Linked DNA regions of Homo sapiens. The protein of the gene in region 1 interacts with the protein of each later gene in a pairwise test. Each region holds a gene or a part of one and is shown in the gene's direction. Other genes may lie near its edges.

Evidence for each region.
Region 2: the proteins of BNIP2 (region 1) and DHRS1 interact in binary tests that used the Homo sapiens proteins (3 or more experiments, as listed by UniProt).
Region 3: the proteins of BNIP2 (region 1) and FAHD1 interact in binary tests that used the Homo sapiens proteins (3 or more experiments, as listed by UniProt).
Region 4: the proteins of BNIP2 (region 1) and FAM3C interact in binary tests that used the Homo sapiens proteins (3 or more experiments, as listed by UniProt).

What each region holds. Positions count from the first base shown.
Region 1 is NC_000015.10:59,671,862-59,679,912, reverse strand, and holds part of BNIP2 (BCL2/adenovirus E1B 19 kDa protein-interacting protein 2), read left to right. Parts: intron 1-144; coding exon 145-321; intron 322-1,825; coding exon 1,826-2,002; intron 2,003-7,173; coding exon 7,174-7,276; intron 7,277-8,051.
Region 2 is NC_000014.9:24,289,683-24,297,416, reverse strand, and holds the end of DHRS1 (dehydrogenase/reductase SDR family member 1), read left to right. Parts: intron 1-535; coding exon 536-679; intron 680-828; coding exon 829-908; intron 909-4,632; coding exon 4,633-4,765; intron 4,766-4,816; exon of another isoform or gene 4,817-5,086; coding exon 5,087-5,233; exon of another isoform or gene 5,234-5,378; intron 5,379-5,791; coding exon 5,792-5,861; intron 5,862-6,197; coding exon 6,198-6,278; intron 6,279-6,421; coding exon 6,422-6,558; 3' UTR 6,559-6,819; downstream 6,820-7,734. UniProt on the Homo sapiens protein: NADPH-dependent oxidoreductase which catalyzes the reduction of steroids (estrone, androstene-3,17-dione and cortisone) as well as prostaglandin E1, isatin and xenobiotics in vitro. May have a role in steroid and/or xenobiotic metabolism.
Region 3 is NC_000016.10:1,822,366-1,830,139, forward strand, and holds FAHD1 (oxaloacetate tautomerase FAHD1, mitochondrial), read left to right. Parts: upstream 1-4,840; 5' UTR 4,841-4,864; coding exon of another isoform or gene 4,865-4,873; coding exon 4,874-5,539; 3' UTR 5,540-6,545; downstream 6,546-7,774. Other genes in the region: HAGH (hydroxyacylglutathione hydrolase, mitochondrial isoform 1 precursor), read right to left, coding at 500-672, 4,347-4,422. UniProt on the Homo sapiens protein: Tautomerase that converts enol-oxaloacetate, a strong inhibitor of succinate dehydrogenase, to the physiological keto form of oxaloacetate. It is thereby required to maximize aerobic respiration efficiency by preventing succinate dehydrogenase inhibition.
Region 4 is NC_000007.14:121,385,924-121,393,974, reverse strand, and holds part of FAM3C (protein FAM3C precursor), read left to right. Parts: intron 1-1,047; exon of another isoform or gene 1,048-1,107; intron 1,108-2,613; exon of another isoform or gene 2,614-8,051. UniProt on the Homo sapiens protein: May be involved in retinal laminar formation. Promotes epithelial to mesenchymal transition.

The sequences.
Region 1 (8,051 bases):
AAAATTTTGTGAATAGGTGCTTTGAAATTATGTTCAATTAATATTATTTTTTCCCAAGAATGGGGTAGTTAAAATTTTTCTTATTCAACTTTAGCATCTAAGCATTCCTTGTTACGTATCTTTTTCTTTATTTTCCAATTCCAGGCTCACTAGAAGTTAATGGAAATAAAGTGAGAAAGAAACTAATGGCTCCAGACATTAGCCTGACACTGGATCCTAGTGATGGCTCTGTATTGTCAGATGATTTGGATGAAAGTGGGGAGATTGACTTAGATGGCTTAGACACACCGTCAGAGAATAGTAATGAGTTTGAGTGGGAAGGTAAATGTTTCACTGTTTTTAATCTGATCTTTATTAATGTACTAAGGGATTTTGTTTGAAATACATCATTCTTTCTAAAGTTCATATATTTGTTACTAAGATAGGAAATTGTGCTAACCCTTGAATATTCTCAAGGACTTAAAAAGTGTGTATAGAGTACACCAGTGGCTTTTTTCCCCTCTTATTTGCCCACTGCTCTCATGTTTTTTTCATAGCTGTTTCAAAAATATTTCTTGATAATTATGGCATGCTCTTTTTTAGTCAATCAAGTAAGAAACTTTTGAAGAGACATATAGTTAACAGTTTGTGGGAAGGGAGTTCTGAAAGGAGGCATTTGGGGTGACTTTTTAAGTAGGTTTGCCTGACATTGCTCTACTTTGTGAAATGACCAACTTAAATTAATGTATACTTTTAGCCCCCGAACCTAGTATTCCTTATTACTTGTAATTCAAAGGAATTGTGCTGTTTTACTTTGCATGCTTTCTTTAATTACAAAATTGTCTACAGTATCTTATATATAGTTGTTATAATTTTTACATATTTTTTTCCATCTTGAAAATGATTTTGTTTTCATAGTAGTGTTTAGCATTCAGTATTTTACTGTAATAAAGTGTGATATGCTATATTTTTGGTTTCTTTTTTCTTCCCTGTTTTACTGGTTCAATAAACAGTCCAGTAGTAAGCAATACTTTGTAAAGATACTGAAATAGTTTTGTGCCTATGTGTTTTGTCTCTTCTTTCTTTAATGCTGCTGTAGTCATTTCCTGGAAGGATATTTTCCGTTAACAGCTTTGTCTTGGAAACAACTAACATGCAGTAGGTTTCCCCCTCCCCCCATCTTTTGGTAAGGACTATAATACTGAAATTTTGAAAATTATTACTACATTGAAAATCAGCTAAACTGCAATCTCAAAACATAAATTACACTTAATCATTGGTGCTTATGCTTTGGCTAATGCTAATTTAAATAGACTTCTGCATGTATACTTCAAAGTATTATAAATACATTTCTGCTTTATAAAACTGATCAAATGAGAAGTGATCATTGAGTAGTTAACCACTTCCTATCTGGTATTACAGTTAATTTATGTGCTCAACAACAACAAAATTGGCTCCCAGATAGCTACTTGAAGTAACCTATAGTCATAACTGCCAGGGAGAATATTGTCACAAGTTGAATCTGGAAAGGCATTGTAAGGCCAGTGTACTAAGATTTTGATGACTCTACAAATTATATTTTCTGAACTTGTGGATACACGTTTCACTATGATTAGGTGGTTTTTGCTAAATTGGGCAATAAAAGTTAAAGAACCATGATTTCCAAAGACATAAAACAGCCTCATGTTAAGAATAAGCCTTTTCCTCCTTTATGGAAGAGAGATTGAAAATTGTGCAGATGGTATAATGAAAATTCTCTGTAAAATCTAGGTAGTAAAGTGGTTAACGTATAATTTGATTTTTGTTGTGTAACAATTTGTGATTCAAAAACTTTGTATTTTGACAGATGATCTTCCAAAACCCAAGACTACTGAAGTAATTAGGAAAGGCTCAATTACTGAATACACAGCAGCAGAGGAAAAAGAAGATGGACGACGCTGGCGTATGTTCAGGATTGGAGAACAGGACCACAGGGTTGATATGAAGGCAATTGAACCCTATAAAAAAGTTATCAGCCATGGGGGTAAGAGTTACTGAGGATTTTTCAGATTGTTTAATGCAATATCAGAATTCTTTTTTTTTTGGAAGGATATCTGTTTATTAAGAGTAAATAAGCCCTGTACAGAACACAGGCGCTAGGTTGAGAGACTCGTCTTTTGTAGGACATTTCTTCCTGCTAACCAGTTCCTGGAGGGCTTGTTTTTTTTGTAACTTTACACAAGGGGCACTAATGGAAAATATAGCTTTCTCAAGACATCTGATGTCAGTTTCCCATTGTTTTGCTTCACAAACATCAACAAAGTAAACCTGAACATGCTTAGCAATTTCCCAATGTTCTTTGCTGACATTACTTTTGACATACTGTGTCAAAATTCTTAAGGTCTCCCCTCCTTTGGTAAAGTAGGCAAAACCTTACAAGGAAAACACTATAATACGTGGAAATATACTGAGTTAGATTTCCAGTCACCTGCTCTATGGCTCTGAGATGCACTATATCCATAATGGTTCCTAGGACTGTGTCCACCTGATGGTTTGGAGTACGGAAAACCAACCCTTATGGCTTAAGAGTCATCTCCCATGGAAGACGATGCTGGCCTTCTGAACGCTGGGGCTCATGGGCTTGTTGATGTGGCTTTCTGGTGTGCCAGGATCCCCTGGCAGCTCCTGTATACTTCAGTCAAGCAGTCCAGCCGGGGCTTGGCACTCTGGAAGACGGGTACTACTTGGGATATCCCATGTGGTTCCACTGGATCCTTCAATAAGATGCAGAGGTAGTAAATCACCTTCTGCATGTAAATAGCCTCATTGATGACAATATCCTTGACCTTGCCCATTTCTATGAAGGTAGTGCTTTCTTAGCCTGAAGCATAAGATGAAGTCATCTGAATGCCAAGGGAATCAATGATTAACAGTCTCCTGATCAATCTTCACAAAATGGAGATAACCAAGCAGACCTAAGAGGGTGATGAAGATGGCAGCAGAGAGGATCATGCTGTTCTCGCAGAGGGTGAAGAGTCCGTAGGCTGCCAGCCACACCGTGCAGGTGACAGCGGTGAGCGAACGCAGCGAGAGCCCAGGGCAGCTGAGGCAGAATTCCCGGCAGGAAGGGAAGTAGTAGCGGCGCTGCAGGGCCAGGCGGCCACCGCAGATATCCGAAAAGCTCCGCTCATCCTCCATGACACCCCAACTCTGCCGCCCGCACCGCACCGCGCGGCACTCCACTGCGCTCGCCTGCCCTAGCCGTTTCATGCAATATCAGAATTCTAAATACTTTTAGAAACTCTGCCTAGAGATATTATGTAATTTTGAAAGAATAATAAGCATTTCTCATTCATTTTAGAAACATGACAGGTTTAAAGTAAAAGAATAAAAGTACCATTTAAAAATGATTATATGCATACAGTAAGTTGAAAAAGTACAAAAGAATTTGTAGTGAAAACTGTCAGGTTGGGCACGGTGGCTCAGGTTTGTAATCCCAGCAATTTGGGAGGCTGAGGCAGGAGGATTACTTGAGCCCAGGAGTTCAGGACCAGCTTGGGCAACATAGACCTCGTCTCCACAAAAAAATAAAAAAAATAAAAAAATAAATAAAATTAGCCAGGAGTGGTGGCATATGCCTGTAGTCCCAGCTACTTAGGAGGCTGGGGTGGGAGGAGAGAGAGCTTGAGCTTGGGAAGATGAGGCTTCAGTGGCCGTGATCATCCCACTGCACTCTAGTTTTTTGTTTTGTTTTGGTTTTTGACCCTGTCTCAAAATTAAAAAATTTTTTAAACTGTCTCTAGGCTACCCAAAACTGGGACTGAACAGTCTCCCTAATTTATAAACAGTGAAATGCTCTGATCTTAAGTGTGCAGTTCAATGAGTTTTGACAAATGCCTATATAACCATATATACCCATATATATAAAACCCATACCCCTAAAAATGTAGAACATTTTCATTGTCCCAGAAGAATTATTTAGTACCCCTGTGCAATGAATACTCAGCTTCGGTAGCCACTGTCATATCTACCCCCTGATTAGTTTTGCCTCTTCTAGAATTTCATATATAGTAACTAAAATCATCCTATGCACTCTTTTGTTTACTTTTCAGCATGAAGTTTTTGAGATTCATCCATGTTGTTGCACGTATCCACAGTACATTCCTTCTTATTGCTGAGTAGTTTTCCATTGCTTGGATAAACCATAATTTGCTTATCCGTTTTTTTTTATGTGCATGTGAGTTGTTTCCAGCTTGGGCTGTTATAAACAAAACTGCTTTGAACATTCTTGTAGAAGTCATTTATGGATATAAGTAAAACTTGGACTCTTTTTGTTTTGTTTTGTTTTGAGACAGAGTCTTGCTCTGTCACCCAGGCTGGAGTGCAGTGGCGTGACAGCTCACTGCAACCTCTGCCTCCTCGGTTCAAGGGATTCTCCTGCCTCAGTCTCCCGAGTAGCTGGGATTACAGGTGCACGCCACCATGCCCAGCTAATTTTTTGTATTTTTAGTAGAGAAAGGGTTTCACCATGTTAGCCAGGATGGTCTCGATCACCTGACCTCGTGATTTGCTCACCCCAGCCTCCTGAAGTGCTGGGATTACAGGCATGAGCCACCGTGCCCGGCCCTAAAACTTGGACTTTTTAACCTTAACTCTTAATTTGCCTTAAAACCGTGAACAAATTTTTTTTTCTTTTTTTTTTTTTTGAGATGGAGTCTCATTCTGTCACCCAGGCTGGAGTGCAGTGGCGCAATCTCGGCTCACTGCAACCTCTGCCTCCCAGGCTCAAGCGATACGCCAGCCTCAGCCTCCCAAGTAGGTGGGACTACAGGTGCACGCCACCACGCCTGGCTAATTTTTGTATTTTTAGTAGAGACGGGGTTTCACCATATTGGCCAGGCTGGTCTCGAACTCCTGACCTTGTGATCTGCCCGCCTCAGCCTCCCAAAGTGCTGGGATTACAGGCATGAGCCACAGTGCCCAGGCCAAATTATTTTTTAATAGAGAACTAGTTCACTCCACACTTCTATACAGCACCCACTTTCCATACTTATGGGATATACAAAAATACAAGGCTTAAGTCCCTGCCCTTAAGAAATAGGAAAAGCCATAAAAGTTTAAGTTATAAATCCTTTCAATCTAACAGTACCATATATAGAAGTTAACCTAGGCACATTGTAAATAGTGCTAGAATGTTAGTGGTAAGTCAGAACACAACTCACTGTAGAGCATGTCATACTACCTTAAATCCTCCTAACACAGGACGGAGGGCATATGGGTCAAGCAGATTGATTTTTTTTCAGGGTCATTTCCACTTGATTTACTCTCTGCCAGATGCATTCCCCTGCTTATTTCTACAGTCTTCATTCATCTGAAAGCAAATCACATGAATATTTGTAGTTGCATTCTTCTGCCTAATTTAATCGTACTCAGATGAAGAAAATGGCGTAATCTGCATCAGGAAGTCCACAGACATACATTATTCAGCTAGTTCACAGGAATCAAATTATAAGACCTGATTTATGGCTTAAATCTCTTATCTTTCAGAAATAGCACTTTTTTTATAGGGGAAAATAAGACCACCTTATTTTATTGCATTACCACACTTAATATATTTTGTGACTGAGTGATTAAGAAAGGTAGTGAAGATTCTGATGTTCTTGAAATGTTCAAATCTTTTCATGTGCAAATTTGTAAGCAATAGAAATGAAGGTTAAAGCAGAAGTATTTGCTACTAAATATTGGCTTAATATCTAAAGACTGCTGTTGAAACATACATATTTTAGCGCTGTTTTCCATTACTGAAAATTATGTCAGAGATGTAATTTAGTTTGTTTTTTTGTTTTTGTTTTTGTTTTTTTTTTGAGACCCAAGTCTTGCTCTGTTGCCCAGGCTGGAGTGCAGTGGTGCAGTCTCGACTCACTGCAACCTCCGCCTCCCAGGTTTGAATGATTGTCCTGCCTCAGCCTCCTGAGTAGCTGGGACTACAGGTGCACACCACCACACCCAGCTAATTGTTTATATCTTTAGTAGAGATGGGGTTTCGCCATGTTGGCCAGGCTGGTCTCAAAATTCCTGGCCTTAAGTGATCTGCCCACCTCAGCCTCCCGAAGTGCTGGAATTACAAGCATGAGCCACCTCGCCCGGCCTAATTTAGTTTTAATGTCCTAATTTCTACAAAATGCTAGCATTTTTAAATATAAACTTACCTTTTAAAAATCACCCACTTATGGCTCTGGCGATGTGGCTCATGCCCAGTGCTTTGGGAGGCCAAAGGAGGAGGATTGCTTAAGGCCAGGAGTTCACGACCAGTCTGAGCAACACAGTGAAACCCTATCTCTACAAAAAAAATTTTATAAAGGTTAACCAGGCATGTTTGTGTGCGCTGTATCCCCAGCTCCTCTGGAGGCTATGAGGTGGGAAGATCCCTTGAGCCCAGAAGTTCAAGGCTGCATGAGCTGTGATTGCGCCACTGCACTCCATCCTGGGCAATGGAGCAAGATGCTATCCTCTAAAAAAAAATTTAAAAAAGCACCCACTTTGCCGGGCACGGTGGCTCACGCCTGTAATCCCAGCACTGTGGGAGGCTGAGGCAGGCAGATCACGAGGTCAGGAGTTCGAGACCAGTCTGGCCAACTTAGTGAAACCCCATCTCTACTAAAAATACACAAAAAATTAGCCGGGCACGGTGGTGTGCGCTTATAATCCCAGCTACTCGGGAGGCAGGAGAATCGCGTGAAGCCAGGAGGCGGAGGTTGCAGTGAGCCGAGATTGTGCCACTGCCCTCCAGCCTGGACGACAGAACGAGACTCCATCTAAAAAAAAAAAAAAAGCACCCACTTTAACCATAAGCATCATAGAAATAAATAAAAATACATTGCAGTTATTGTATTGTGTCTGTATTGTATTGGGTTATATCACTATATTTGTCTACCTGCTAAAATAGGGCTGGCTTTTTAAATATGCGAATTTAAGTGGTCTTGGGTTTTTTTGTTTTTTCTGTCCACCGTCCTCTTTAAATTTTACTGTTCTCTTTTTGGGAAGAAGACATTAAAATTCTATATAAGACCATATAAGATTTACAAAACATACATTTAATACAGAAATCTGTGAAAAGTAAACTCTTATTTATAATTTACTAATCATACAGATGTCTTCTAAAAATGCCTAAGAGTAAAATCGTGCTGGTGATACTGTCTTTGGTTTCTTTTTTAGGATATTATGGGGATGGATTAAATGCCATTGTTGTGTTTGCTGTCTGTTTCATGCCTGAAAGTAGTCAGCCTAACTATAGATACCTGATGGACAATCTTTTTAAGTAAGTATATATTAAACAAAAACATTTGGACAGAATTGTGAGCTAATTAGATCTACACCTTAAGAAACTTAACCTTTTCAAAAATTATAAATATTCCAGTTCTTTGGGAGACTGAAGTGGGCAGATCACTTGAGTCCAGGAGTTGGAGACCAGCCTAGGCGATATGACAAAGCTCTTTCTCTACAAAATCAAAAAATTAGCCAGGCATGGTAGTATGGGCCTGTAGCCCCACCTACTCAGGAGGCTGAGGTGGAAGTATCACCTGAGCCCATGAGGTCAAAGCTGCAGTGAACTGTGATTTTGCCACTGCACTCTACCCTGGGTGACAGAGTAAGACCCTGTCTCAGAAAAATAAATATCCCAGATCTTTTCACGTGCAAGTTTGTGAACAACAGAATGAAGGTTAAAGTAAAAGTATTTGTTACTAGATACAGGACTAGATGAGTCCTTATTCTTTGATATTATGGAACGATAGTTTTCCAATTCAAGAGAAAAATTGTCATTTTAAAACTGGGAAATATATCTCAGATTATTTGTTCCAACTTTGTTTCGTTTTGTTTTGAGATGGAGTTTCACTCTGTCACCCAGGCTGGAGTGCAGTGGTACAACTACGGCTCCCTGCAGCCTTGACCTCACGGGCTCAAGCCATCCTCCTACCTCAGCCTCCCTAGTGGCTGGGACTGCAGGCACATGTCACCACATCCTGCTGACTTCTTAATTTTTGGTAGAGACAGAGTCTCACTATGTTGCCAGGGTTGGTCTCAAACTCCTGGGC
Region 2 (7,734 bases), on another chromosome or scaffold:
GTGGGCATTTGTAGAGAGTGAGACAGAACAGGAAGTAGAAATCATTCATGGCTGATAGCTTTGGTTTTTTCAATTACCAACCAGGAGCATTGGTGGAGTGAGGGTAAGACAACTGGGACTGAGTAGAGGTTTTAGGTGAGTAGTGTAGGGTGGGAGCTAAGGGCATGAGAGATGGAAATGACCACAACAAGGAAAAGGATGCTTACTCATTTCTCAAGAGCAGACTCCATGCCTCACTTGTTCTTACCCTCTACTTGCAAAGTACAATGCTGTGCACATGGTGGGCCTCAGTAAATGTTTGTAGATTATTAAAACTTACATTGCAATTCACCTTGCTCTGTGGTGGGGAGGCCTATCATTCCTGAAACTACTCAAACAGACACCAGAGGGCAGCGTTGCCTGCCATGTTGCCTCTGCAGCAGGCTCTCCTAGGATTGATTGTCTTCTCAGTTCTCAAGCCCACTTTGGTTGGGGAGTTTTGTCATGACTCACACCCATGTGTGAATGTGAGCTCATATCCCCTGTCCTACTCCAGGCACAATCCCTCGGGGGCCAATGTGTGCCTGTGGTGTGCGATTCAAGCCAGGAGAGTGAAGTGCGAAGCCTGTTTGAGCAAGTGGATCGGGAACAGCAAGGGCGTCTAGATGTGCTGGTCAACAATGCTTATGCAGGGGTCCAGGTACCCTTTGAACTTTGTTCCCAACTCCACATTTCTGACCTCCCCCTCAGACCCCTGCATCTTCATCCCCACTCATTGTCCCTTCCATTACCCAGCCCCTCACACCTCCCTACCTTCAGATCATTCATCACCCTCCCTGTGCCTTCCAGACGATCCTGAACACCAGGAATAAGGCATTCTGGGAAACCCCTGCCTCCATGTGGGATGATATCAACAACGTCGGACTCAGGTGGGTGCTCCACTGCCAGGACCCATGTTCCCTCACTCACTTAGCCAACTCGACGGCCAGGCCTTTCCTTACATGCCCTCTCCTTTTCCCTCCGGCCTCCCCCATCTCTTTCTTCTCCCTTCCATTCCATTTGTCCCACTTACCTCTGGAGAAGTTCCATCCAGGTGAGTCTGTACCTGAGAATGTCAACTCTGTCAGTAATTTTCATTGGAACAAGCCCTTGGCCTCTCTCCTGTCTCACTCTCTGCCCATCCAAATGCAAGACCCAGAAGGGAGGAAGCCTCCTCCTCTCAGTAATGCGCACAGCCTGTAGTCTATACTTTCAAAATGGTTAGAGGGAGAAATTGTTTTATTTTAGACTGGGAGAAGCTTAAGAAGAAGGAGCGAACACCAATGCTGTTTAGTCTCCACATCCTCACTCCACACCCACAGGCAAGGGCACTGCCGGGTCAGAGTTGGGAGAGCAGGTACATCACTGGGTCACACAGGGTCATTTAGCCCAGGAGTGAGATGAAACACAGCATTTAGAATTCGCCTAGCATAATGCACACCAGTTATGCCTCTGTTACTGTTGGAATGATGTTACACTCTCATATAATCAAGTCATGCCTGATGGATGTGATCAGTCACCTGTGGGAGTAACCACGAGATTATCGGCAAATCTGTGACTAAAGCATGTAAGAACACCCACCGCTCCAATTTTGGTACTCTGGTAACAATCCCAAGGAAGCAGGATTAGAATGCAATTGTGATTTCCAAAGTGGAAGGAAGATCATTAGGACAGAGGAGGATGGTGAGGCCAAAGGCAAGAAAGGGACACGTTAAGAGCTGGAAATTGGCCAGTGTTCATGACCATAGCCTCCAAAGAGAGGTGCCTTCCACACCCTCATCTCTTGCTGGCCAGGGTTTTGACCCTGAAGCAGAGATTCAAGGCAGAGGCCCAGACCCTCGACCTTGGGCCCTGATGAATTATCCAAGGTAAAGGCCCCTTGATGAGCCCCTGACAGCCCCCCAGCACCTCCTGCCCACCCATTCCCCATGCGCATTTACTGCCTTTCCTCTGTATTACCTTGGGCTGCACTTTCCTTTAAAACTATAACTCTACTTGTTTTCATTTGGAAGGTCCTAATTCTTTCCCTATGCAAAAGAAATTTATTCTGGTTACCAAGTTATGTGTGTGTTACTTTTTTTAAATATGGAAAAAATCTGAAGACCAGTATAATCTTATTCCCCTCAGTGCCATCCCTTGCTCTCTTGCCTGATATATAGCTACTATTAATAGCCTGGCATATATTCTTTCAGATTTTTCATGTAAATATCTCTCATTCTTTTTAATACTTGTACGTATTCTATTGGGAGGATGTATGATCATTTATTTCTCTAATCCCTTATTTGTTGCAGCAGTGGAATTCTTAGATCAAAGAATATGTACTTCCCTTAGGTTATAGAGACTGTGGGAAAAATAGAAAAAAAGAAAAGAAAACAAAGAATATGTACTTTTTAAAGATTTAATAAATATTATCAAGCTCTCCTACAAAAAGACCCTACCAATTTTTTATATCAAGACAATGAAGGGGAATATGTGTTTCCCCATGTCCTCTACCACACCAGGCAGCGTCAGCTCATGCACTCAGGCAAGCTTTGTTACTATAATAAGCCGAAAATATATAAAGGGGTTTTAATTCATACTTCTTCCACTATTTGTCAGGTTGAACTTTTTTTCCCCTTTGTTTATTGGCTCTTTGTTCTTTTGTAAATCATCTTTGACTTTCGCATTAATTTATAAGAGATCACTGTGAAACAAATGACTTTGGCATTTATTTTACAAATATTTTTCCCAATTTATCACTCATTTTTCACACGCATACTCCCCCCACTCGTCTGTTGTTGTTGTTGTTGTTGTTGTTGTTGTTGTTGTTTTGAGGTGGAATCTCGCTCTGTCACCCAGGCTAGAGTGCAGTGTGCAATCTCAGCTCACTGCAACCTCTGCCTCCTGGGTTCAAGCGATTCTCATACCTCAACCTCCCGAGTAGCTGGGATTACAGGCACCTGCCACCACGCCTGGCTAATTTTTGTATTTTTAGTAGAGAACGGGGTTTCACCGTGTTGGCTGGGCTGGTCTCGAACTCCTGATCTCAAGTGATCTACCCACCTCAGCCTCCCAAAGTGTTGGGATTATAGGCATGAGCCACCATACTCAGCCTCGCCCTGCTCTTTATATACACAGAAATATACATGTATCTTTGTATTTGTGTGTGTATGTGTGTGTATCTTAATTTTACGTCAAATCTGTCAGTCTTTTATAGTTTCTGTCTTGGTGTGACGCTAATAAAAGCCTTTTCCCTCAAGTTTATAAACACATTTGATCATGTTTTCTTTCAGTACTTCTGTGCTTTCGTTTTTTATATTTAAATATTTGATCCTTTTAGGCTTAATTTTAAAATAATAAACGAGGCAGAGACCCAATTCCCCTAACTCAAATAACTGGTCGGTTGTCCCAAATGATCCAACTTTCCCCCACTGATTTGACAGGTTCCTTTCGTAATACATTGCGTTCTCACATACACTTGTATCTAATTATTCTCTGTTTTGTTTCATTGACTTATCAGTCTACTGTTAACACCTGTATTGCATTCTTTTAACTATTATGTCTTGTACATTTTAATTTATTTTATTTTATTTTTTAGAGACGGGGTCTTGCTGTGTTGGCCAGGCTGGTCTCAAACTCCTGACCTCAAGCAATTCTCCCATCTCAGCCTCCCAAAATGCTGGGATTACAGGCATAAGCCACCATGCCTGGCCCCTGTGCATTTTAATATGGGTGACAGCAGGGGTAGGGAAAGCAATCCCCCTCACCCACAAGACATTAGTCTTTTTAGTCCTTTTTTCGGAATTTTCCTGGCTGTTCTCTTTCTTTTTATTTATTTATTTATTTTTGAGACAATCTCACTCTGTCAGCCAGGCTAGAGTGCAGTGGCACAATCTCAGCTTACTGCAACCTCCGCCTCCTGGGCTCAAGAGATCCTCCTGCCTCAGGCTCCCGAGTAGCTGGGACTATAGGCACGTACCACCACACCTGGCTAATTTTTGTATTTTTAGTACAGATGGGCTTTCACCACGTTGGCCAGGCTGGTCTCAAACTCCTGAGCTCAAGTGATCTGCCCCCCTCGCCTCCCAAAGTGCTGGGATTGCAGGCGTGAGCCACCGTGCCCAGCTTTTCTGGCTGTTCTCACGTTTATTCTTCTCATTGAGCTTTAGATTATTTTATCAATTCCTCCAAAAGGTCTTATTGAGCTATAATCCAATTTGACTGAATCTATGGATTGATTTACATAGAAATGATGATTTACATGTCAGTTCTTAGCTTTGAAAGATTTTGTCTGTACTTATTGTCATGGTTTTATAGTTTTTCTATGTAGACACTATACATTTCTTAAGTTTTCTCCCCCTGAACAATTTTGTTTGTAATTGTTATTGTGACAGGGCTCTTGCGTTCCATTTCTTCTTCCAAAGATTGCTGTTTCTCATCTGTCAGTGGTTATTTTGACCAGTTTTCCTCTCAGAATATGGCCTCAAGCCCCTAATTCCTCAGGTCGCTAACCCACCCTGTGTAGCCTTCCTAGTGGACAACAACCACCAGAAGGCAGGGGAAGCCGCCAGAGGCTGTGGCACCCAGGCCAGCACTAACACGGTTCATTCCTTCTTCCCTTGCCCCACCTTCTAGAGGCCACTACTTTTGCTCAGTGTATGGGGCACGGCTGATGGTACCAGCTGGCCAGGGGCTCATCGTGGTCATCTCCTCCCCAGGAAGCCTGCAGTATATGTTCAATGTCCCCTATGGTGTGGGCAAAGCTGCGGTGAGGACCCAGTGGCATAGGAGCTGAGGAGGTAAAAGACAGTGATGTTACCTATAGCTCAGGAGGTACAATCCCCAGTGGTCAGAATGGTAAGGCTGGCTCCTCTCAGCTCCTCCTCTGCCTCATCCATGGACAGTTCCTTTGCTTGTGCTCCTCTTGGTTGGCTAGAGTAGGCATCACACTGGGGAGCGTGGGCAGCTGAGACCTTGGGGCTCCTGGGAAGGACAGGGTGGGTGGAGCATTCACAGTAGAAGCAGAGAGGGCAGGGCAGGAAAGTGACATGGCTAGGTGGCTCTTACCCTGCCTTCCGCCTCTCCACAGTGTGACAAGCTGGCTGCTGACTGTGCCCACGAGCTGCGGCGCCATGGGGTCAGCTGTGTGTCTCTGTGGCCGGGGATTGTGCAGACAGAACTGCTGAAGGAGCATATGGCAAAGGAGGAGGTCCTGCAGGATCCTGTGTTGAAGCAGGTTGGCAAGGGGAGGGCGAAGGAAGCAGAGAACAGGGGAGTCGGCCTCTGCATCCTCAATAACAAGATCAGATACTCCCACTCACCAGGTGCTTACTGTGGCAGGTGCAGGGCTGAGCATGGGACACACATTATTTCCTTTAATCCTGTAAGGGAGATACCAGCTCCATTCTACAGATGGCAAAACTGAAACCCAGAGAGGTTTAGAAACTTGTTGAAGGTCACATATGTCCTAAGTGGAAAGGCTGTCTAGCTCCAAAGACCATGCACTTGACCCCCACACCAGCTAGCTTAGAAGGTCCAAACACTATTTGGCACTACCAGATCCTTCCACTTAGCAAAGACAGCAGATCCTGGTGCCAGGGCACAGGGCTCACCTGGATGTGGGGAGGAGTGGCTCTGGCACCTGCCAATACTTTGGGTCCTACAGGCCCTGCTTGAGGTCTTTGGCCTCTTTGGTCTTTGGTCTTTTTCTCCTGGAACAGAAGTTGAAATGGGGAGGAGACCTGGGCAGTGCTCTTGGAAATTAACCCTTCACTTCTCTGCCCCTGTGTTTCAGTTCAAATCAGCCTTCTCATCTGCGGAAACCACAGAATTGAGTGGCAAATGTGTGGTGGCTTTGGCAACAGGTGAAGTTTGGGGGCAGCTGGTAATAAGAAAGGGCATGGAGGATGTGTAGTGCGGTAGCATCCAGTGCCCAGATCTGGCTCGGGAGTTGGTTGAGGAACATGTCATTCTTTTCTCTGCTTTTTGAGGCCCAAGGGGTCAGCATTCCCAGTTTGAGGTCTGAGAGCCTTAGGAGCAGGCTCCTGGGAAGTGTGGAAAAAGTCCAAGGCCCAAGAGAAAGAGCTCTCCAGGGATCCTGAGCTCCAGGGCTCTCAGCAGTGCCCTGTCCAACTGGGCCCAAACCTTGTCACTCTGCATACTCCCCTGCCTGCCATCTCCACCTGTCTGTGTGCCCGCAGATCCCAATATCCTGAGCCTGAGTGGTAAGGTGCTGCCATCCTGTGACCTTGCTCGACGCTATGGCCTTCGGGATGTGGACGGTGAGGACCCTGGCACAGCAGTCAGCCTTGACTGCTGTTCCCTCTGTTCCCTGCCCACTCCTCCCTCGGTCTCTCCAGCCAAGGTGAGGGTATCTGAGGAGTGGGAAATGAGAATCTAATCCTCCTCCTCCTGTTGTTCCCAGGCCGCCCCGTCCAAGACTATTTGTCTTTGAGCTCTGTTCTCTCACACGTGTCCGGCCTGGGCTGGCTGGCCTCCTACCTGCCCTCCTTCCTCCGTGTGCCCAAGTGGATTATTGCCCTCTACACTAGCAAGTTCTAACCCTCCTGGTCTGACACTACGTCTCTGCTTGTCTTCTCATTTGGACTTGGTGGTTCGTCCTGTCTCAGTGAAACAGCAGCCTTTCTTGTTTACCCATACCCTTGATATGAAGAGAAGCCCTCTGCTGTGTGTCCGTGGTGAGTTCTGGGGTGCGCCTAGGTCCCTTCTTTGTGCCTTGGTTTTCCTTGTCCTTCTTTTTACTTTTTGCCTTAGTATTGAAAAATGCTCTTGGAGCTAATAAAAGTCTCATTTCTCTTTCAATGTGTTTTTGACTGCTGATTCTCTGCTCAGCAACATGTTAACAATTTGGGAGAAAGACTCAAAGATGTATAAATGTGAAGCTTCTCAAGGGGTTCTGCCCCAGGACAAGACCCCTTTCCTCCAGAACTGTTCCTGCTCTGCCCTGCAAGACCTGTTTCCCATGCCCCAGCTGAGGAGCAGAGTCGCTCCACAGCTAGAAGTGGGCACATCCAGTCTCACACTGGTTTTCCACCCCCATTCCACCATCTCTTCAGGGATGCCTGCTACCTTCTAGCTGGGCCTGATCTCTGGCTGAGGCCCAGTCCAGCAAAGGCAGATTCCTTGGTGTTCATGATTTCCTGGAACTTGGGGAGAAGGTACTGCCTGAATCCAAGTGAGGGACAGAGGAATAGCTGTGACACCGACAACTCTCATCCTTCCTCTCGGGATGGTTCTACCTGAATTGCTTTCTGCAGAACTAATTGCATGAGCCCTATAGAGCTGCCTTGCCTATGCAAGAGGCTGTCCTAGCCTGAGGCAAGGCAATGGGGTGTGTTCCTAAGAGGAGCCAAGGGCTATTCTGAGGGAACCTTCCACCGGACAGCCTAGATAACCATCCAAAGTGATGGGATGGCTGCCATAAATCAGAGAAACATAAATCATTTTACTTATTCAAAATCTTCAGAGTGAGAGCTGAGGCTTCCCCAGGCTGCCCACAAGATTGGCAGAAGTCTTCCTGTGGCTTTCTGGGGACCGTCCCCAGTTACTGTTCCAGTGGTAAGTGGAGTGGCTCACCAGCTTCTGAGAGCTTCTGATGCACATCTCTTCTAAGTCCTCATTCAGTGATTTCATGTGGTGTCTTGAATCAGCCATGGCGACAGTACATGTCCCATGAAAGTCCACAAATGCTACCAATCAAAGCTTTCTTTTAGAGAG
Region 3 (7,774 bases), on another chromosome or scaffold:
TGCAGTGGCCCCGGGGAAGGACAAAGGCCTGTCACACTCCTAGGCCTGGCTTGCTGGCCTATATGGTAGGGTGCCCAGCAGAACCCAGGACACGCCATGAGGGGCCGCTGACATGGCCCGTCCTGACCCTGCCAGCTTGCCCTGCTCCAGGAGAGCCAGTGAAAGCACCTTCTCCTTCCTGCTCAGCCTGACACTCTTGCAACCACCTACGACCGCTCCAAGCCCCTCCAGCTCTGAGGGCACCACCCCCAGAGGCAGCATGCAGGGGCAGAAAGCCCCCAAGAAGACTCAAGTGCCCAGGATTGTACTGCACAGCGCTTTCTGTGTCACTGCCTCTCGCCTCCACCCTTCTTGGAGCCCTGTTAACAGAGTGGCCGGAGACTAATTTCCATTTAGCTTAGGCAAAGTTGCAAGGACACTGCGGTTAGGAAACCCATCGGGGGTGAGGACTCCGAGCTGGGTGACCAGGGCAGGGAGAGCCAGGCACAGCCATGCGCACCTTCTGGGGCTGCACCGGATCCACAATGGCAGCCTCCTTGGTCTCATCATCAATGACCAGGTACATGTAGTTGTCGGTCAGGGCAGGCAGCACCTCTACCTTCATGGTGCCCTCGTCCACGGTCAGGTTCTTCCGCAAATCTGTGTGGCAGAAAACTCCCAGCAGGGCTGGACCTGCAGACACAGAGCACAACTCAGCGGGCAGCCGCGCCAGGCCCTCCACGACAGGACGCGCAAGCTGCAGTGCTTCCCAGCCTTTCTAGGTTCCTTTGAAAAGGAATATTCTGGCCAGGTATGGTGGTTCTTGCCGGGAATCCCAGCGCTTTAAGAGACTGAGATGGGAGGACTGCTTGAGGGCAGGAGTTTGAGACCAGCCTGGGCAACATAGCAAGACCTTGTCTTTTTTTTTTTCTTTTTTTTTTGAGACGGAGTCTCGCTCTGTCGCCCAGGCTGGAGTGCAGTGGCGCGATCTCGGCTCACTGCAAGCTCCGCCTCCCAGGTTCACGCCGTTCTCCTGTCTCAGCCTCCTGAGTAGCTGGGACTACAGACGCCCGCCACCATACCCGGCTAATTTTTTGTATTTTTTAGTAGAGACGGGTTTCATGGTGTTAGCCAGGATGGTCTCGATCTCCTGACCTTGTGATCCGCCCACCTCGGCCTCCCAAAGTGCTGGGATGACAGGTGTGAGCCACCGCGACCAGCCAAGACCTTGTCTTTGCAAATTTAAAAATTAGCCAGGCATGGTGGTGCATGCCTGTGGTCCCAGCTACTCCGGAGGCTGAGGCAGGAGGATCACTTGAGCCCAGGAGTTTGAGGCTGCAGTGAGCTATGACTGTGCCACTGCACTCCAGCCTGGGTGACAAGACAATAACCTGTTCCTTAAAAAAAAAAAAAAAAAAAAAAAAAAAAAGGAATATCTTCATATATCCCTGAGGAGAACACAGGAACTAACTCATGCTCACATTCATGGAAATCAATTGTTTCAGACTTACGATCTCTATTTTCTTTTTTGAGAACTCTAAAAGGACAGGAAGGCCAGCTTGTGATTGTGAGGCGAACCACTGCCAGTGCTGGATTATTCACACCCCGGACTCAGGGACAGAATGTGAAGAAGGGAACACAGACTAGGGGTGCCCCCGCCTGGCCATCTGCCCTCCAGCAAGCTGTGCTGCCACCACTGACTAAGCGAGCCTGCGTTCCATGCAGTTACAGCCCTTCTCAGCCTCTAGCCAGAAAGAACCAATACTTGACGGCAGGCTGAGGCAGGAGAATTGCTTGAATCCGGGAGGTGAAAGTTTCAGTGAGCCAAGATCGCCCTACTGCACTCCAGCCTGGGCAACAGAGTGAGACAGTCTCAAAAAAAAAAAAAAACAAACAAACAATACTTGCTCTTGAACAGCACGAATCTGAGATATGCACAAAAATCAGCAGTTCCTTTGAGACGGAAAGTTGGCCACAACTGCCCCCAGATTCAAGTGTGGAGGACACAAAACCACCATCCAACTGACCCAAAGGACTCTGCCACAGGGGCCCAGAAGGCCCAAGAGCTGGGAGGAGTGGGTGACCAAGGGACAAAAGTGTCTGCCACCCAGTCGACCAATGCAAAAATATTTTCAGCAATGAAACTCCTACTAAATCTAAAAATACCTGGGGGCCCCGACAATACCTTCAGTTCCGCTCTACACGGGGAAGAAACCACAGAAGGTGGCAGAGGACAGTGCAGTCCTGGGGTAGGTGCCACGGCAGGGGCTTCTCCCAAAAGGGATCCAGAAATGGGCAGCAGCCACCAACTGACAGACACACGCGTCTCCAGGGCCCACCGAAATGCGGAATCCGACCTTATTTCCACAGCCGGGGAAACTGCCCAAACTATAGTTTCAATCACTGCACAAAGATATCCTATTACCCGCCTGACAACCAGCTGGGCATTTTCCAGATCATTCTCCTCAGGAACAATAATACCAAGATTTCTATATGAGCAGCTTCCTGTGTTATTCCCCTTCCCCTTAGCCTCAGCACCACCCCAGCCCAAGGAGCACAACAAGCAGAGTGTGGGTGCTGGGGGCTGCAGGTGGGGTGCAGAAGGGTTGTGACAGGATTCCGAGTGCCGGGCGTCCTCCTGGAAAGGAGCTCCATTACAAACAAGGAGCAGAACATTACAAACAAAAATACTGCCCACGTGCGGTGGCTCACGCCTGTCATCCCAGCACTTTGGGAGGCCGAGGCGGGCGGATCGCGGGGTCAGGAGTTCGAGACCAGCCTGACCAATATGGTGAAACCCTGTCTCTACTAAAAAATACAAAAATTAGCTGGGCGTGGTGGCGAGCGCCTGTAGTCCCAGCTACTCAGGAGGCTGAGGCAGGAGACTCGCTTGAGCCCGGGAGGCAGAGGTTGCAGTGAGCCGAGATTGGCCACTGCACTGCCCAGGCGAAGAAAATGTCATTTACAACTGGTGCTCAGCCTCCCCTGGAGACCATCACAGCCTCCTGAAGAAGCTGACAACCCAGGGAGGTGCCTTTATTTCTGAGGAAAGACGCAGCTGGTGCCAACACCAGCAGAAACCGTATTCCCTTTCCATATCACTCAGCCCAGCACTGCCTGGCAAATGTTCCCGGCTTGCTGTTTTGTAACTGTAATACTTTGTACAAACAGGTCAAGGACCTGCAGCCTGGGGCCTGGACCAAGTCCAGAAACATGTTCGGTTTGGCCCCAAAAACAAAAAAAAATTGAGATATGGTCTCACTCTGTCCCCTAGGCTACAGTGCAGTGGTGCGATCAAGGGTCACTGCAGCCTCGACCTCCTGGACTCAAGCGATCCTCCCACCTCAGCCTCCAAAGTGACTGAGACTACAGTTGTGTGCCACCACGCCCGGCTGATTTTGTTTAGTTTTTGTAGCGATGAGGTCTCAACATGTTGCCAGGCTGGTCTGGAACTCCTGGACTCAAGCGATCCTCCCGCCTCGGCCTCCCAAAGTGCTGGGATGACAGGCGTGCGTCACTGCACTTCTTTTTTAAATCAGGAAGTTTCACAGCATCTTGCTTCCCTTGAACTGGGCGGCACCAAATACGGGGGCTGGGGCCTCCCTTAGAATGGGGTACGCACGCCCTGCCGATGCACACAGTCCCGCTGGAACTCTCTGCCTGGACCCTTATGAATGTCCCTAAAACTGTAATTCTGAGGACCTCAAAATCCATGTCCTTTCCTTAGCAATGGCGACATTCTACCCCCTGCAGAGCCTTGACAGCTTTCGGCGAGATCTGGAAACCGCCAGGGACGCCTCCCTGTCTGCGCCTCCGCCCGCCCAGTGCCCTGCGCTGCGCACCCGCCCGGGGCGCTGGCCTGGCCCGGCCGCGCGACCACCTCGGGCGAATGACACGCCGGGTCCCCAGACGGGGGCTCCGGCGCCGGGCGGGCAGCTCCACCACCGCAGGCGGCGCCGCGAGACCGCGGTCCTTGCAGCGGGGCAGCAGGTGCGGGGTGGGCCAGGCGTCCCGGGGCCCTGCCCGCTGCGCCTCAGAGCCGCGCCCCAGGCTCTCCTCGGCGCCGGCCCGGGCAGGACGCGATGCCCTGGAGGCGTCAGGGGCGCGGCCGGCCCAGCCCGAGCGTGGAGGCCGCGGCGGACGCAGGCCTGGCCCTGCTTACCTAGCGCTTTCCGCACCCGCGGCCCCGCGCCCGCTCCGCGCCAGCCTCAGCGCCTGCGCCGCCTCCGCTCGAGCCCGGCAGCGCGGCCTTAGGCACCTGCGCAACAGACACCGCGTCAGCGGTCGCCAAACGACGGCCCGGCGCCGCCCGCTGCCCGCCCCGCCAGGCCCGCGTCCCCCGGCCCGCACCGCCCCGCCGCACCCACCGAGGCCTCGGCGGGCGCAGGCGGCTCCCAGCGCGGCGAGGCTGCGGCGGCCGAGCAGCCCTCGGCCCACCACCATGACCCGGGCCGGGCTGGACTGCCGAGCTGCCCAGGACTGCAAAACACCGGCGTCGGCGCGTCGCAGCCAATCAGCGCCCGCCTCGCGCTGCCCTCAGCCAATCAGCGTCCACCTCGCACCGTCCGCCAACCAATCAACGCGCTCGCGCTCAACTTGTTTTGTCCGCGAGCCCCGACTGCCACGGGCCGGGAGACGGGCCTGGGAGCGGCGGCGGCGGCCCGAGAGCTGCGCCGGGAGAGCTGTGCCGCGAGCCTCCGCCTCTTTTTTGGCACCGCACAGTGGATCCCTGGAGGCCGAGCGCCACGCCGCCCGGGTACCCGGCAGATCGCGAGGTGGAACGGGCCGTCGCTGCGGGGGACAGCGTTCCGAGGCAGTTGGTCCTCTCCGGGATGCCGTAGGCATCAGCTGACCGGCCCAGCCCACGTGACTACAGGGGCACTTGATGGGAATCATGGCAGCATCCAGGCCATTGTCCCGCTTCTGGGAGTGGGGAAAGAACATCGTCTGCGTGGGGAGGAACTACGCGGACCACGTCAGGGAGATGCGCAGCGCGGTGTTGAGCGAGCCCGTGCTGTTCCTGAAGCCGTCCACGGCCTACGCGCCCGAGGGCTCGCCCATCCTCATGCCCGCGTACACTCGCAACCTGCACCACGAGCTGGAGCTGGGCGTGGTGATGGGCAAGCGCTGCCGCGCAGTCCCCGAGGCTGCGGCCATGGACTACGTGGGCGGCTATGCCCTGTGCCTGGATATGACCGCCCGGGACGTGCAGGACGAGTGCAAGAAGAAGGGGCTGCCCTGGACTCTGGCGAAGAGCTTCACGGCGTCCTGCCCGGTCAGCGCGTTCGTGCCCAAGGAGAAGATCCCTGACCCTCACAAGCTGAAGCTCTGGCTCAAGGTCAACGGCGAACTCAGACAGGAGGGTGAGACATCCTCCATGATTTTTTCCATCCCCTACATCATCAGCTATGTTTCTAAGATCATAACCTTGGAAGAAGGAGATATTATCTTGACTGGGACGCCAAAGGGAGTTGGACCGGTTAAAGAAAACGATGAGATCGAGGCTGGCATACACGGGCTGGTCAGTATGACATTTAAAGTGGAAAAGCCAGAATATTGAGTTATTTCTTAACAAGTTTCGAGAGAGAAGGGAGCAAGACAAGAGCAAGCAACGGCTATTAAATGTCACAATCCTTTAATTAGAAACCATTTATTGGCCGGACGCGGTGGCTCACGCCTGTAATCGCAGCACTTTGGGAGGCCGAGGCGGGCGGCTCACGACGTCAGGAGATCCAGACCATCTTGGCTAACAGGGTGAAACCCCGTCTCTACTAAAAATACAAAAAATTAGCCGGGCGTGGTGGCGGGCGCCTGTAGTCCCAGCTACTCTGGAGGCTGAGGCAGGAGAATCAATTGAACCCGGGAGGCGGAGCTTACAGTGAGCTGAGATTGCGCCACTGTACTCCTGGGCAACAGCGAGACTCCGTCTCAAAAAAAAAAAAAAAAAAAGAAACCATTTATTTTAAAAATGATTAGATTGCTATGCCTCAACTCATAGAAGATGAACCCTTCAAGAAAACGTGAAGTAGAACGGGTGGGCCAGAAATGAAAACAGGCAAGTAAAGTATTTCTTCGGAAAACATTTTATCAAACCAAATGTTAAAAAGACTTTCCTTTTGTAAAACTGGATTAGAGAAGACTTTTCAGTGGGTTATCTCTAGGATGATCAGTAGTTCAGCACTTAAAAACTGCAGAGAAAACTGAAAGTTATGTTCCAGATAACTTTCCGTTGTTTACCAAATTTTCTTAGATTTGGTCATCATCAGGAAGCATTTGTAAAAATAAAAATCTCCACAAATTACTGGCCCATCTCGGACTTGCTGAATCAATTTGATAGGATTAATCTCCAGTGAAGCTGTGTTTACAGGGCATTCCAAGTGATTCTTATCAGGAAATGTGAAAAACACTCCTGTACATAATCGGTTAATTTAAAATTTTACTTAATAAGTGAACAAGTAATGAAGATTTCACCTGTTTACTTAGGGTATCTACCCAGACCCATCGATTCTGAGTTCGGGAGATGATTTTGAAATTACTGTTTTCCAAATAAAGGTGCTCCCTTCTAAGTGGCTTACAAGGGTAATTTTTTTCCCCCCAGTAATGACGAGGAGGGATATTTCCTCCTTGTGGGGCTTCAGACCTTAGTCTTTGACCTTTGGCCTTCTGAGCACTGTGCTGTGTTAACACAGTTAATCAGCAACTGTACTTCCCAACCGGAGATAAGGAGGCTTTGTGGAAGTTGAATAGCCTGGGACTGCTGCTTTTGCTCTTGCCTGCACCCTCCTCTGAAAAAACATCCAGGCAAGATGCACAGCATAGCTGTCAATGCCTGGAGGAGTCCTTTGGGCTTCGGCAGGGGTTCCTGTTCGCGTTCACATCATCTGCTGGCCCCTGAAGAAAGCCTAGGACATCTGATTGAGTAGTAACGGTCCCCATGTATTGAACACAGTACTGTTAGGCACCATGCCAAGCAGTTTATTCTGTATTTCCACGTGTTATGTAACCAGCAACCAAGCCATAAGCTTAGTATGATCACTACCATCCCCATTACTCAGATGAAGACAGATCTAGAGGCTGCGAAGGCTGGCTAAAGTCACTCAGCTTAGTGGCAGAGCCGAGATGTAACCCAGCTCCCCCAAGACCAGAACGTGAAGTTTTGACCACAATGCAGGCTGCATCTTGTAAGTAGATACATAAGAAGAATCAGACACTTAGGTATGCTGCAACCCCATGCTTAAATTATAATATAGTATGAGGAAGTGCCATAATTGGATTTCTTTATTAAGTATCATGCTATCTTAACTACTTTTAGTATTATTTTTTCATTGCTTGGCAATGCATGTAATTACAGAAGAGTCAGAAAATAGAGATTAGCAATTAGAACAAAACACCAAAAATTTCATCTACCCAGAGACAGCCAAAGTTAAGCATTTATTGCAAGTTCTTCCAAGTCTGTGGATATAATTGTAATTTTTTAAATAGAGTTTGCTCATACCATACAATTTTCTTTTTTTTCTTTCTTTCTTTTTTCTTTTTGAGATGGCGTTTAACTCTTTTTGCCCAGGCTGGAGTGCAGTGGCACAATCTCGGCTCACTGCAACCTCTGCCTCCCAGGTTCAAGTGATTCTCCTGCCTCAGCCTCCCAAGTAGCTCAGATTACAGGCATACGCCACCACACCCGGCTAATTTTGTATTTTTAGTAGAGACAGGGTTTCACCATGTTGGTCAAGCTGGTCTCGAACTCCTGACCTCAAGTGATCCACCCGCCTGGGCGTCCCAAAGTGCTGGGATTACA
Region 4 (8,051 bases), on another chromosome or scaffold:
GCTGAGCTAGATAGATTTTTGTGCGACCTTGGTATAATAGCAAAAGTTTGTCTTGAATTTAGTCCAGAAGCGTCTCTGTTCTTGGGATCAGATGATCAGGATTTGAAGCATTGATTCTGTATTTAGTTATTTCAAGAGTGGCATTGACTAAATTACTTAATATCATGCAGTCCTTTTTAATCTGATTGAGTAGACTGAACCAGGTAATTTCCCAAAATCTTTGAACTTTTAAAAGGTTTTGTACTTTCTTTTAATGCAATTCTTTGAGACACAATCGGCTGACTTCCTCTCAGAGGAGGAAATTAAGTGTTGTAATACCCCTAAGTCTTTCCAGTGTACCCATTAATATTCTTTTTCTTCTTCATTGGCCTGCTCCATTTGATTGAAGCTATTCTTATATTTCCCTTATTTTTAATCTAATTTTGAAAATCCGCTATTCATGATTTTTCTAACTTCAGTGAGTTTTTTCTTCCAATTTTCTTTTTTAAATTAAATTCCTGTAACAGAATTTTTCATTTTATTTTTAAATTATTTACAAAGACAGGGTACCCCACTGTTCTGCAGACTGGAGTGCAGTGGTGTGATCATAACTCACTGTAGCCTTGAACTCCACCTTAGCCTGTGGAGTAGCTAGGTTTACAGGCATGTGCCACCACACACGACTAATTTTATAATTTTTTTTCTTAAAAGACGGGATCTTACTATTTTGCACAGGCTGGCCAAATCTGCCCTCAGGTGATCCTTCGACCTCAGCCTCCCAAAGCTCTGGGATTACAGACATGAGCCCCTATGCCTAGCCAGATTTTCCATTTTAAAGTGTGGCATTTAGCACGTTCATGATGTTATGAACCGTCACGTTTCTAAAACATTTTCATCACCCCAAAAGGAAACCCCATATTCATTAAGCAGTTGTTCATTCCCTTCTCCCTGCCAATCCTCGGCAACCACTGATCTGCTTTCTGCCCCCATAAATTTATCTATTCTGGATTTTCCTAAAAATTGAATAATTCAATATGTGTTCTTTTGTGTCTGGCTTCTTTCACTTAGCATGTTTTAGAGGTTCGTCCTCTAAATCAGCAGGTATCAGTACTTCATTCCTTTTTAAGGGTGAGTAATATTCCATTCTATATTCCATTCATATACACCACATTACATATATATCATTTCGTTGATACGTACTGCATTTTGTTTATTCATTTGTTAAATTTTTGTGTGCTATTCAGAAAGTTATATGAACATCTCTAAATTGATTTTCGTCATAATCTCTACAAGGCTTGCTAAGGTAGTGTTATGGTGTCAGGTGTGCTACCTAACATATCATTCATTACTTGCAGTTAAGTGATTGTTAAATGAGTTTTGAAAGACGCAAGGTCAACAAAAATGGATTTTTAAGTTGGTTCAGTTGATACGTGGTGTGGTTTGGTTCTGCGTCCCCACTCAAATCTCATCTCAAATTGTAATCCCTGTGTGTCGAGGGAGGGAAGTGATTGCATCATGAGGGCGGCTTCCCCCATGTTGTTCTCGTGACAGTGAGTTCTTACAAGATCTGATGGTTTTACAAATGGAAGTTTTTCCTGCACTCTCTCTCTTCTCTCTCCTGCTGCCTTGTGAAAAAGGTGTCTGTTTCCCCTTAGCCTTCCTCCATGATTGTAAGTTTCCTGACACCTCCCCAGCCATGTGGGACTGTGAGTCAGTTAAACTTCTTTCCTTTATAGGTTACCCAGTCTTGGGTATTTCTTTATAACAGTGCAAAAACGGACTAATACAATACGTTTTCACAAAATTTTACAATAGAAGCATCTTTAGAGTTTATTTGAACAAACAATTCATGAATTGAGCAGCTCCAAACCAGATCTGGGAGCTCCACCAGGGGAATCCAGGAGGGAGGCTTTTATAGGAGGGTCACAGATGTAAAGCAAAGAAAATATTTGATTGGCTGCAGTTATACAGTTGTTTTATTTGGTCTGTCGTGTTGGAAGGTCCCCTAGATATGTAATTAGAAGTTTGTTGGATGTTTCTGATTGATTAAGCTTAAGTTCTCTTTTTCTTTAGCATAGGCATTTATAAGAAGTAACTTCATATTTTGCTTATGTTTGCAAATCAAGTGAGGTTGATGTCACTTATGAGGCCTAATTGGTTTTGTCTGCTCGGGGATTCTTCAGGCATGGTTTCCATTTTAATTTACTTCAGCAGTGCTAATTCTCATTCAGTTTTTGTGGTACAAATGGTGTGCCAATACTGCATTTCATCCAGGACCCTTGGGCGATGGAACCATTCTGTTTCTCCATGTCTTCATTTGGAGGGTGTGACTGATGGAATTATGTCTACCCTGGTGCACTTAAATTCTGCAGACTACTTCAAAACAGCATAAGTAGAGTGGATACCTAAGGGAATTCTTAAACACGTAGAACAGGAACCTATAACTTCTCATCTAGTACAATGTGAGATAGTTACATGAGATGAAGATAGCAGTTCTACTGTATGTAAATGTGTACCTTTCTCTAATCTCATTTTAGCAGTTTATGAGTGGGACACTTCATTACCCCATTTATGTTCAACCTCTAACAGTTAATATATTTCATTTTATTGTTGTCATTGTTTCTAAGAATAGCTATTTCTTTCTGTCCATCCATTCATTCATCTATCCATCTCTCCCTGGATGGTGTACTATAGGATTAAGGTAGCTTAGATCACAAGTGTTTAAACAATTGTAGAACTCATAGCAGGCAAAACTGAATGTCATTTTGTAGAGTTCTGTCTTGTTTTCTGTTTTGGGTATGTTTGTGGTCTTGGTTGCAGAAATCCAGTCACCATTTCATTTCGTTAAGTGGATTATAACTTTTTAAGCAAAATTCTGCTTTGGTAGATAATAAAAACTGCAAGAAAACATTTGAGTAATATTAAATCTAGTACTCTGGTTTAACCCCTGCAAACAGGAGTTCTTGATTATTTATTCCTCACCACATTTTCTCTGGATTTATCTGTTGCCCACCAAAACTGAAGACCCATTCTGGTGGCAGGTTGACTGTTCCAGAAAGAATGAAAAATCTTGTCATGTGAATTTTACTTTTGAACTTTTTTGGTTTAGATCTGCCTTACCTTCCCCCCCCCCCCCCCCCCCGCCCCACACAGCCTTTCCTGTGTGTGTGGATTGGTGTGCTGTAGATCTGAAGCTCTCAGATCTGAGCACGAATGACAGTCATCTGGGGAGCTTATTAAACATGCAAGAGCTTTAATCCCACTCCTAGGGATTCTGATTCTCCAGGTATGCAGTTGGCTCAGGAGTTTGCATTTTAAAAAACACACTAGTAATTCTGGTGTGCATGCTATAGGTAACCCTGTAGTAAGAGGTTCAAAGAACATATGATGTTTCATTGAATCTATGACGCCACAGATGGTAAGGGTCAGAATCTGGTAGCTTTCAGCTGCATGACTCCTAAGCCCTAATTTCCAATCTTGTGGCTAATTTGTTAGTCCTACAAAGGCAGTCTAGTCCCCAGGCAAGAAGGAGGTTTGTTTTGGGAAAGGGCTGTTACCATCTTTGTTTTAAACTATAAACTAAGTTCCTCCCAAAGTTATGGCCTATGCCCAGGAATGAACAAGGACAACCTGGAGGTTAGAAGCAAGATGGAGTTGGTTAGGTCAGATCTTTTTCACCATTTCAGTTATAATTTTGCAATGGTGGTTTCACTACTAAGAAATAAAAATGTGGTTGTAAGCCTTATCCTGAGTTTAGTTAAAATGAGGGAAGCAAGATGCAAAATGAGTTTAGTTAAAATAAATAGGGTATTAAGTGCCTGGCAACCAGAGGTTCCTCTTATTATCTTAACAGGTTATTATGAAGCATAGCAGATATGAGATTTTAAAAAATTACAAAGCAACAGTTCTTCAGATCTTTTACCATATAAATTATTTGATTGCAATGAGGAGTTTATATAAGGTGTCCTTAGTTGACATCTATTTGTAATGAAAATTGTACTGATGACTTTGTTTTAAAATGCAACTTAGGTGTATATGGGGGTGTAATAGACTCCAGTTTGGCCCCATATTAATTTCATCCTACTCATTTCCAGTCATTTAGATGTTGCTGGCTCAGTTCAGAAGTCTGATTTCTATCCTCCTTGTACTTCAGTGATTCCTGTTTTGTAATTATAGTCCACTGAAATAGTAAGGTGTGGCATAATCATTTGATGTCTACCTTTTTTTTTTTTTGCCACTTTCCTGTTAGAGAGTCCACAGCCCTCATTAATGCCAGCTAGGTGATTATACACATATATACCAGCCGCATAGCATCTTGTACTGAGTAGTGGTAGGATGTAATGGCAATATTTGGGGTAAACACCAAATCTGTGTCAGTGTAAACCTGAACTCTGGCTGCCAACTCAGAAATGCTGTAGTGGCATATTGGGTACTGAATGAGGGCTTATCTGTAGGTTAGAACAAATCTTTCCCCATTAATGAGAATTCAGTGAAGAGCAACCCCACCTGCTTAAGGTGCTTCCTTCAGTAGTAGTAGCTTGGAAAACAAAATATCTTTTTTAGGAAAAAGTTGCCTAGCCATGTTATATTTGGGTATAGAGGAGCAGAAGAGCTCAGATCCATTTAGTTTTTAGCTCCTTGAAGTGTTTTTGGAAGACATGGTTAAATACTTGTTGATCCACTAAATACCAGATTTCTGAAAAGAATAACTGTAGGTCTCTTTAGCTAATTCACATTGATTTAAGGGGGTTGTACTATGAAATTCTTAACATTGAGATGAATCATGTTGGAATACTTATGTTCTCAGAATGTAGTGTGTATGGCCTGTCAGGCTTGGCTGCCTCTCCCTACACTAAGTCTTTGGGTAAAAGTTGGCCTAGATGGGGCACTTTCATGATTTAGCTGAGCACTTTTGCTAACCTGTTTTTAAGTGGAGGGAGAAGCAGGTATTATATTTTACCAATTTCATTCTTAGAAGAATGGAGTTTTATCTAAATTGCTGTAGATAGAAGTTTTCCGAAGTGTTTTTCTCCATTCACTGTCAGGAGCGCCAAATGAAAAACAAGGTAGAGCAGTTTATGGTGGATTGTGGAGGAAAGCTGAACTTGCCTAGTATAATCCCAATTTGCTTCATATCTGGCATTGGTTAACATTCTAGGGGAAATTTAAAAACACTTTCTGGCTCATTTGTGCTTTTCCATAGTATACTTCTAATTCTATTTCTGTTTCTTAGCCACATTTAGATGTTCTCTTTTAAATGTAATTTCAATATGATGCTACTTAAGAAAATAAGAAAAGCCAGATGATGTTGATTCAGAAAACTGTCAAAAATCTAGGCATAGATCATCTGTATTCTTTTCCCAAGATTTTCAATAGAACATTAAACATTTATTTTAAAACTCTTATTGGTTCACTTGACCCATTGTTTATAAGTTTTTGGTCTGTTGCTTTTTGGGGGACACTTTGCAGAAGGAGTGGATACATTTACATCATAATCATTGGTGATCTTTTGAAAAATTTGTCATTCCTAGTATTATAGAATTCATATGGATCACCTCTCCCCACACCCCCAATTTTGTTTTTGTTCCTTTTTTTCCCTTTTCAAAATGTGAGTTTAGCTTGATTCTTTAAAAATCTGGGATACTTTTCTAGTTGCTGGTAGTCATGTAAAAATCTCCCTTTATTTGTGATCAAGTCATACCCACCTCTGAAGCTGTACAACAGGAGTGTGTGAGTGTGTGTGTGTGTGTGTGTGTGTGTTAAAATGGTGGTTTCTTTTAAAAGAGTGTACCTTCTAGGATTCGGTATCCTGCTAGTATTAAATACTTTCTCAAGTTAGTAACTAGATTTTTCTTTCAAGCCTTTAGTGTTAAAAACACCAAATTTTGTTAAATTTACAATATTTCTAACACAATGATAGCAGCTCAGATATCCTACTGAGTTTTTAAATGTTAATATTTTTTCAAATGAATGCAGTCATCTTATTCCTTTCCATTTTGTTATTTCAAAAATGTAGCCAGCTTTGCAAAGATGTGTGTATAGTTGCATTCAGGGGAGACAGGGTACTTGACAGCCGTCTGCATGTGCAATAGTAATAACTTGTTATTAAAGACAAGGTTTTTTAAAGCTAAATATTTGGAATTTTAGAAGTTTGTTAAGCATTAGATGCACATTTACTTCACTCTTTTTTTAAACCTATCATAAAAATAATCCCATATAAACACCCACATAAAGGAAATAGTAATGTAAGTTTTTTCCCAAGAACATAATTTTTATAGTTACTGAAGTGTAATATAGTGAGATTAATTTTTATTGGTTTCTTTACATTTCCTGGGATTGGTTTGGAAACATAACAGCATCTAGATTTGTTTCCACCTTTGCTATAGATGGATAGCTTCATCTACAGGATGGGAAGGACTTTTTTCTTCCTTTTGAAGAGGATCCATTCTGTTGTTTCTCATGGAATTATGCTTCTTTCTGTGGAGAGCAGATTATGAAAATGTTTGATGAACACGTGTGGAGCACAGAAATTAGGATTGTTTCATCTGTCCTACATCTGTAGTAGTACTTCTAAGAGGACCTGTCAAAGCCATGTGGAAGTTGTATGTCCTACACGTAGCCCAGCAAAAAAAGTTGGACTGTTAGAGCCTGGTTGGGAAAGATGTTTATTCCTTTATTTTTAAATTTTATATTTTTATTTCTTTTTATTAGGGGTTGACAAAGTACAACCCCTAGGCCTGTATGGCCCACAAGCCAAAACTGGTTTTCACATTTTTAAGTGGGTTGAAAAAAAATCAAAAGAATAATTTTGTGACACATGAACATTTTATGAAATTTAAATTTCAGTGTCTATAAAGAAAGCTTTATTAGAATATAATTAGACTCATTCGTTCACATGTTGGCTATGGTTGCTTTCTAGCTACAACTGCAGAGTGGCGTAATTGCAGTAGAGATTGTATGGTCCATAAAGCCTAAAAATATTTACCATCTGGCCCTTTTATAGAAAGAGTTTGCCAACAGTTGCCCTGTTTTACTCACATAAAAGTAGTTATTTATAGCAAACACAGTATTTTTTAAAAAATACCATGCTTTTGTTTGTAAATGCAACATCGGAGTAACCTACCCTAGTGACTCTTTGAGTTGTAGCATTCTTTTGATTTTAGTATTATCTCATTTTTCTCTTTTACTTTAAATGCTCTGGGGATAAAAATTTAATTTTTTACATTCTGTTCTTGAGGGGGTCTGTATTAGTCTGAGTTCTATAGAAAAACAGAACCAATTACATATATATATATATATATATGTGTGCGTGTGTGTGTGTATGTATAGATATAGCTCTAGATATATAGACATATATTCCTTATAATACATGTGGAGATAGCTTCATTTATATACAGGTATATGATTTGTATGTGCGTGTTTGTGTGTGTGTGTGTATATGTTTATTATAAGGGATTGGCTCATGAGATTATGAATGCTGAGAAGTCCAAGATCTGACAAGTTGGCAAGCTCTGACAGTCCAGGAGAATGAATGGTATAGTCTGGTCTGAGTCTGAAGGCATTGTCTCAGTTTAAAGATAGGCAAAGAAGGCGAATTCTCCCTTACTTATTAGAATCCCTTATTATTAGAATCATGGGAACTTTCTAAGTTGGTTGGGTTAAAATTGTCATTTGTCCAGCACTGAGTTGAAGTAGGATTGAATTGAATGATAGTTTCTCTATTTGTAGAGGATAACTTGTGGTATTTTCCTGTGGTTTAATTAAGTGCTGTTTGTTAATATTAAGTAGGTACATCAAAGGGTGTATTTGTACGTTTAATTTTCTTGTATCATTTCCATTTCAAGGAGGGGTTCCAATACCCAAGCTTAGTCATTTTGCCATACTGTTGAATTGCTGGAGTGGGTAGTTTGTAGCAATTCCCAAAGCAGTTTGCAAAAGCCAAGTTGATTGGCATGACATTTTGTCAACAAGCCTCTTATATTAGAGTGTGTCAGTGAACAGCTGGAGTGAAAAGGAAGTGGATTTGTTTGTAGCGTGAGCTTCTTACTTACCCTTCATGTGACCCTAGAGAA